Linked DNA regions of Homo sapiens. The protein of the gene in region 2 purifies or fractionates together with the protein of the main gene of each other region. This does not show direct contact. Each region holds a gene or a part of one and is shown on either strand. Other genes may lie near its edges. The genes, in order: RDH14 and ARL8A.

Region 1 (3,911 bases), on a different chromosome or scaffold from region 2:
TGCAGACTCACTGAGCCAGTCTAAGACATAAGTGATTATTCCTCTATCCCTCCTGCACATGTAAATTGTATTCAGTAAAAGGCTAATCAAAGACCCAAAAGAATGCAACCTTTTGTCTCCCATCTACCTATGACCTGGAAGCCCCCACTTCGAGTTGTCCCACTTTTCCAGGAGAACCAATGTATACCTTACATATGTGATTGATGTCTCATGTCTCCCTAAAATGTATAAAACCAAGCTGTGCCCCGACCACCTTGGGCACATGTCCTCAGGACCGCCTGAGGTTCTGCCACGGGTGCATCCTTAACCTTGGCAAAATAAACTTTCTAAATAAATGAACTGGGAAATATTTCTGGCCTAAGGGCATCATGAAAAAATTACTGAGAAAATTTGGGAACCTCTTCTCTAGACTCAAGAGACTCTACGTCATATAGGCACCTTTCTTGTCCCAGCTAATTTTAAATTTCACTCTTCTGAACAAATGCCCTCTGAATGCCAGTTATCCCTGCAAGAAACTCTTCTACCTCAATCTCAACGGAGAACATCCACTTATGTGGAATTACTTACCATTTGCACAAAGAAATCCTCACACCTCACTGCCAGGCAGCAGGAGGAAAGAACAAGGGTTAAAAGCAAGTGTTCTGGAGACAGACCACAAGCAAGTTTCTTAGCCTTCCTATGCCTCAGTTTCCTCGCGTTGTAAAACAGGGATGATAATAATGCCTACTCCACAGGGTTACTGTGTAGCTTCAATGACAGTTATAGGCAAGGACACTTCATTTTCATTTAAGACAAAAAGGAAAATCTGAAATGCTTGGCACAGCTCCTGGCATACAGATCTTCAATAATGCTGGGTGTTATTTTTATTCCTGTCTCTGTATGGAGCATGACCACTGGGTTCCAAAATGTATTCTACTTGGAAATCAGGCCACAGTCCCGTTAAGGATGGTGCTGAGTTTACTGGTGGCAGCGAGCTCCTTACCCCAGCAGAAAAGGGGCAGAGGCCGGGGGAAGGAGAACTTTTTTTAAAGGACTGATATGAGGTCCTTAGCTAGCAACTTCCCCCAGTGCTCAGGGGTTCTGAAGACACAGCTTGGTGCAAATTCACTTCTGACACAGGAAAAACAATTCAGAGGCCATGGATCTACTTCGGGGCGGTCCTCACGTAACGAAATGAAACGTTCAGAAACTGGTTTATTTATTTTTCTCTTGGGCCCATTTCTTTTTCGACATCCTTAGAGGACAGAAGGCAGCCCTCCCAGTTAGTTTCTCTTTCCCTCTCAACCCTGCAGCTTCCCGGCCGCCTCAAAGTGGCTTTTTGGACTCCTCTCAGCCTCAGCGGTTCCCAAGGTGACACCCTGAACCCCAGGGCGGTCCCTCGCGGCTCAGCCCCAGCCCGCAGTCCCCTCCCACACCGTGCCCAGGCCCTCCCCACCAGCCCGGCCCCCCGAGGCCCACACCTGGAGCATTTCCTGGCAGAAGGCGCGCACCGAGCGCAGCGAGGCGAGGTCCAGCTCCCGGACTATGAGCTCGCCCACCCCGCTGACGCCAGGCTCTGGGCCGCACTCCGCGGCCTGGCGGAGCTCGCGGCGGAGCTGACCCGCCGCCTCCTCGGCGCGCGCGCGGTCCCGGCAGCCCATGATCACCCGCGCTCCCAGGCGCAGTAGCTCGGCGGCCGTGGCGCGGCCCAGGCCGCTGTTCGCCCCGGTGATCAGCACAGTCTTCCCGTGCATGAGGCCGGGGTCCCCGCCTCTGCGCAGCCGCTGGACCCTGGGCCCCACGAACCGGCGGGCCGCCAGCCACAGCGCCCCGCCCAGAGCGGCCAGTACTGCCGCCGCAGTGGCCACTGCCATCGTCAGGCCCGAGGGCCCACCGGCCCCTCCACGGGAGTTCCGCAGCCGCCGCCTTACCGGAACCCAAGAGACCACCTGTACGCGGAGAACGCTGGGGCGCGGCGGGTCGGCCCCTGACGGTGCGCGTGGGGCATGCTGGGACTTGTAGTTTCCCTCTGGGGGGGTCGCCTGATTGGTTGTGAGAGTTCAGCGCCCTGGGTCCTGCGCCCTCCGTGGAAGCTCCTCCCAGCCTAATGATGGAGGCTGGGCAACCAGCACAGTGTTCAGGGTGCTGGGGTTCATACGTATTGAAATCCCAGAGTAGTGGCGGACTTCCCCATGGGAATGTCTGATGAGTACTTTGAATCACAGATCTCTGTACAGGCCCTGTTACAAATGCCACTCCTCAGGGCATTTCGTGTGTTTTCCTTTGAGGGCTCTTGGGACTTGTAAATTCAGTTCAATTCACCTTCTGAGGAATGGGCCCTGACAAGCTGAAGTCTGAGGTAGGACTGTTTTTCATAGATGAGACAAAGAATTAAGCAACATGAATCAGTTGGAAATAGAATGGTCGAGTAGTTCTCAAACTTAAATGCACATCAGAATCACCTGGAGGACTTGGGGTGGGGGTTCGGGGTGGGGGAATGAAACAAAACGAAAACAAAAAACCAGGGCCCCAGTATTAGAGTTTCTAATTCAATAGGTACAGGATGGGGCCTGATAATTTGCACTTTTAACAAGTTTCCAGGTGCTGCTGCTGCTGCAGATCTGGGAACCACACTTTGAGAACCACTGAACAAGACATTATGTCATTGGTCCCTATTAAAAAAAAGAAAGCCATCTTCAAATGATCTTCACACTGGCAGAGGTACAGTGGGAAAAGCTTGGACTTATTGTAAATATAGGCTTCTGAGCAGGCCATTTACAAATGCCTCCCTGCCCTCTCCATAGGACTATTACACACAACGATGGAAGGCAAAGTGCTTGGCTCACTGTAAAATGCCTCATTAATATCAGGGTTAGTGTCACAGGGACCCTTCTTCAAGCTACAAACTTCATAGCTGTAGACCAAGCTACTTTTAAAGACTCATTCGTTCGTCTGCCTCTCCATCCAATATGTGCCTGGCCCTGCCTGTTCCCTGTTAGAGCCACAGAGAAATGGGACACCATTTCTGCTCTCAGGGTGCTTACTTTCTGGAACTGTGATCTCCCACTTCCCACCCTCCACCCATTGCAGGTTCTCCAGACAAGGAAAAAGAACCACAGCTTGTGTCGTTTGAGACAAACTCCCCAATAATTGTGATAATCCATCTTCCACTCCCTTACATTTGGGAAGGATGTAACATGCAACTAATAGTCAGAATACAAAGAAAAAGGGATGGATTCCAGGAGGTTTCTTATGAGTAATGAGAATGGAGCTCAGAGGTGGGAAAGAGCACTCTTACTGGGGATTATACAAGGCACCAGGAACAGGAATCATGAGAGGTGGTCCTACACCACCCTATCCCCAATTTGAAGCTGCTACTCAAACTCATTGATCCCCCAGCATATGTTTCCACTTTATTGTCCTTTCTACCCATCCACATCTTGCCCATCCATCAAAATCACAGGCTACCTCAAGTCTTTCTTTCCTGACCACTTCCAGCCTATAAAGATCTCTGCTCCCTTCATGTGTGACCCTCAGGGTCATGTGTGACCCTCACTGGCACTGAAGACAAACAGCCTTCTAGTATTGGCTGTTTGAGTTTGCACATTTGACTTCCTTGACCAGATTGTTAAGGTTTCAAGTTTCCTAGAGGATAGGATTGTGTCTGCGTACCTCTTGTGGTCTTTGCATGGGAGGACACCTACAAAATGGTAGGTACTCAGTGTCACATGTCACAACTGATATATTTTGGACTGGTTTACATAAAATTAGGGAGCATCAGAAGATGTGTTTCAGCTGTGGTCTTCTCTCATCTAGAGCCAGGGGTGGAATACATATGTACAGGTGGAGTAGAGATGAAGGTGGAGGTAGAGAGAGCAGGAGAGGGTAGGAGGAAAAGAGGAGGGAGGAATCCTTAGACCTGCAGTGTAACT
Region 2 (3,911 bases):
AAAAAAAAGGAACCTAAAACATCCTTTGAGTTCTGAAAAAGTTGTGATGCTAGAAAAGTGGGAGATGTTTTGTCCTAGGAAACAACAGGGTCATTTTCAAATATTTAAAAGTGTCAAAGACTGTCCTATGGAATAACTAGTCTTGGAGTGCCCAAGGGGACTTAGGAACAATGGGTGGACATTCTAGGAATGATAGATTTTTTTTTCTTTTTTTTCTTTTTTCTTTTTTTTTTTTGAGACAGAGTGTTGCTCTATCACCCAGGCTGGGAGTGCAGTGGTACAGTCTCGGCTCACTGCAACCTCCGCCTCCCAGGCTCAAGCAATTCTCCTGCCTCAGTCTCCCGAGTAGCTGGGATTACAGGCATACACCACCATGCCTGGCTAATTTTTGTATTTTTAGTAGAGATGGGGTTTCGTCATGTTGGCCAGGCTGGTCTCGAACCCCTGACCTCAGGTGATCTGCCTGCCTCAGCCTCCCAAAGTGCTGGGATTACAGGTATGAGCCACCATGTCCGGCCGGATTGTTAACTCAATATAAAGAACTTTCTGATAGTTGGAACTGACCCAAGAGGGGATGGGGCAGAAGGGACTGAAGTCTGAGACAAGAGGTTGGGCTGCATGACTTCAGGTTACTTCCAACCTTAAATGAGGAGCCTATGAGACAGGGAGGCATTAGCAGGGAAATTAAGTCATAATCTGATTCCACCTTAGCTCCGATTCACAGCTGAACAAGACCTACTGGTGCCGGGGAGCCTGGCTCCTTGAAGGTCCTCCCAGCATCCCCCTCTGCCAAGGTCACATTCTGCCAGGCTGGGCTTCTCATTTACTTGGTAGCCTGTGGATCTTCTAGTTGCCAAAGAGCAGTGATGGTTCCCCATGCTATATCGAAACCATTTCCAAGCATGTTGTGAGTCTTATTTACAGTTCCTAGGAGACCGAAACCCTTCTCCCCAGTTTTACATTCAGAAACACTGAGGTCCAGAGAAGTTCAAGTTTCTTATCCAAGCACCCCCTGGGATGAGAGACAAACAAGAACTGGGCCTCCTTCCTCAGACTCTATTGTTGGGGATGGGGTAGACTGCAGCAGGCTGCCGGGGTTTGGGTAATTACAGCACACTTAATTCTCCCTGCTTAGCTAGAAGAAGCCATTCCCTCTTCCTCAGTGGTTCCTAACTTTGGGGGCTCTCAGAACTTTTTGATATCTGAAAGAAGTGAGAGACCCTTTCTCCAGAAAAATGTACACACAAACAAAACTTTGCACACACACAGATTGTGTACAGTTTCAGGGGGTTCAGGGGATCTCTGAAGCCCAACTGTGGACCTCAGGTTGGAAACCGCTGCTGGACCTTGTCATTGGGTGTCAGTCCTGGGTACTCAGTTCTTATATCATCCTAAGGCCCTGATGAATAGGTGGTTCCTGCAGATAAAAGGGAATTGGGCTGGGCGCGGTGGCTCACGCCTGTAATCCCAGCACTTTGGGAGGCCGAGGTGGGCGGATCACGAGGTCAGGAGATCGAAACCATCCTGGCCAACATGGTGAAACCCCGAATCTACTAAAAATACAAAAAAAAAAAAAAAAAATTAGCTAGGCATGGTGGCACGCGCCTGTAGTCCCAGCTACTTGGGAGGCTGAGGCAGGAGAACTGCTTGAACCCAGGAGGCAGAGGCTACAGTGAGCCGAGATCACACCACTGCACTCCTGCCTGGGCGAGAGAGTGAGACTCCGTCTCAAAAAAAAAAAAGGGAATCAAAGCAGTCTATTCAGATGGGATATCAGGGGTCTTCATGTGGACATGGAGGCACCAAATAAGAGCCAATCATCTCCTACATCTTGGCTAATGGTCAGGGCCCCTGATCTCTTTATGTAACCCAAGGCAAATTATTCCTACCAGCTGGTGGGAGAAAAAGGCATGGTAAAGGAACAGGGCTTGGCCGGGCACCGTGGCTCACCCCTATAATCCCAGCGCTTTGGGAGGCCCAGGTAGGCAGATCACTTGAGGTCAGGAGTTCAAGACCATCCTGGCCAATGTGGTGAAACCCTGTCTCTACTAAAAATACAAAAATTAGCTGGGTGTGGTGGCACATGCCTGTGGTCTCAGCTACTGGGGAGGCTGAGGCAGGAGACCCTCGCTTGAGCCCAGGAGGCAGAGGCTGCAGTGAGCTGAGATCACATCACTGCACTCCAGCCTGGGCCATAGAGCGAGACTCTGTCTCAGAAAAAAAAAAAAAAAAAAAAAAAAAAAAAGGAACAGGGCTATCACCCTCAGGTTCAATGTTGAATGAGCCTCATCTTTTTTTTTTTCTCAAGCCGGAGTCTTGCTCTGTCACCCAGGCTGGAGTACAATGGCATGATCTCGGCTCACTGCAACCTCCACCTCCTGGGTTCAAGCGATTCACCTGCCTCAGCCTCCCAAGTAGCTGGGATTACAGGCACACGCCACCACACCCGGCTAATTTTTTGTATCTTTAGTAGAGATGGGGTTTCACCATGTTGATCAGGATGGTCTCAAACTCCTGACCTCGTGATCTGCCCCCTCAGCCTCCCAAAGTGCTGGGATTACAGGTGTGAGCCATCGCGCCCGGCCGAGCCCCATCTCTTTAGCCTGCTTCCAAGGGATAAGCAGAAGTGTCCTACCTGTGAACATGGAGATATGACCTGGGAGGGAGTTGGGTCTGGCCTTATTTGAAGACTGTAGGTAGTTTAGAAGAATCCAGAAATCCTAGAGACAATACAGAATGGATTTTGGAAAATGGAATTACAGTCAAACCCCCAGTATTCAGCAAACATTTACTAATGGTGTTACTATAGACCTGGGTCCTCTCCCAGGAAGTGTTCTTTCTAGTGAGGAGACACATAGATAAATAAGCAGACGATATAGAGTGTAGGTTATCCTTCCCAATAACTGGAGTACAGTACAAATAAACTGAACCATGGATAATCCAGAAATTGCTTGGCATGCACTGCATTTTCAGGATGACCAATATACTCTGCCCTAAAAAGTTTGATTTTTTAGTTTGAAAATTCATCTGCTTTCTTTGAGATCCTCCTTAACTATTAGAACATGACTTGCTTCAAGTTCTCTTGCTGGAAGGTAATTTCTTCTTCCTCTCCACTGGAGAGAAAGTGGCGTCAGTTACTACAGAGAGATGTAGGTTAGACTTGAGGAAGAATTTTCCCCTAGTCTAGGCAAAGAGATTGAGACTGTCTGACAAAAGCGGGTCTTTTCACAGGGCATCCCCAGGTGTAGGCGGGACACATAGGTTGGTGATAGCCCATCCTGCCTGAAAGCACAGGATGTGCAAGAGTACCCCACAGTGGGAAGTCTAGGAAGCTCTGGCCTGGCCTCTGCATGGTTCTCGCAGCCTCTTGGTCTGCGGTGGGGGCATATCGATTTTTGCACTGTTTCCCATTCTGAGTCTTCTTTCCAGTCAGGACAGTTCAACGAGGACATGATCCCCACCGTGGGTTTCAACATGCGCAAAATCACCAAAGGGAATGTGACTATCAAGGTGAGGGCCCAGAAGCTTGGGGGGTGCAGAGGACTGTTTTTGTGTGTGTGTGTGTGTGTGTGTGTGTGTGTGTTGGGGAGGGCAACGGAGGCCCCTGGGAGGAGCGAGCTGAAGTGGGGCAGAGGCCAGGGTCCCCCTGCTGAGGAGCTGGGAAAAGACAGTAGAAGACTTCTAAGGTAGACGGAGAGCGGGTGGAGACGGGGGAGAACTGGAGAGGAAGCCGGGGAGGCAGAGGAGAGTAGGGCAGGGTAGGAGGGGGCATTTGAGACCCAAGACACGTTTTGGTGGCCTGCCCACTACTGAGGCTATCTCACCCTCTTCTTGCTCAGCTCTGGGACATTGGGGGACAGCCGCGTTTCCGCAGCATGTGGGAGCGCTACTGCCGAGGAGTGAGCGCCATC

What was found.
Region 1: the proteins of ARL8A (region 2) and RDH14 purify together in Homo sapiens (co-immunoprecipitation; 2 studies listed by BioGRID and IntAct, with this or other methods). This does not show direct contact.

Annotation. Positions count from the first base shown.
Region 1 is NC_000002.12:18,558,720-18,562,630, forward strand, and holds the start of RDH14 (retinol dehydrogenase 14), read right to left. Parts: upstream 1,935-3,911; 5' UTR 1,854-1,934; coding exon 1,461-1,853; exon of another isoform or gene 1,457-1,460; intron 1-1,456. UniProt on the Homo sapiens protein: Retinol dehydrogenase with a clear preference for NADP. Displays high activity towards 9-cis, 11-cis and all-trans-retinol. Shows a very weak activity towards 13-cis-retinol. Has no activity towards steroid.
Region 2 is NC_000001.11:202,137,967-202,141,877, reverse strand, and holds part of ARL8A (ADP-ribosylation factor-like protein 8A), read left to right. Parts: intron 1-3,429; coding exon 3,430-3,510; intron 3,511-3,839; coding exon 3,840-3,911. UniProt on the Homo sapiens protein: Plays a role in lysosome motility. In neurons, mediates the anterograde axonal long-range transport of presynaptic lysosome-related vesicles required for presynaptic biogenesis and synaptic function. May play a role in chromosome segregation.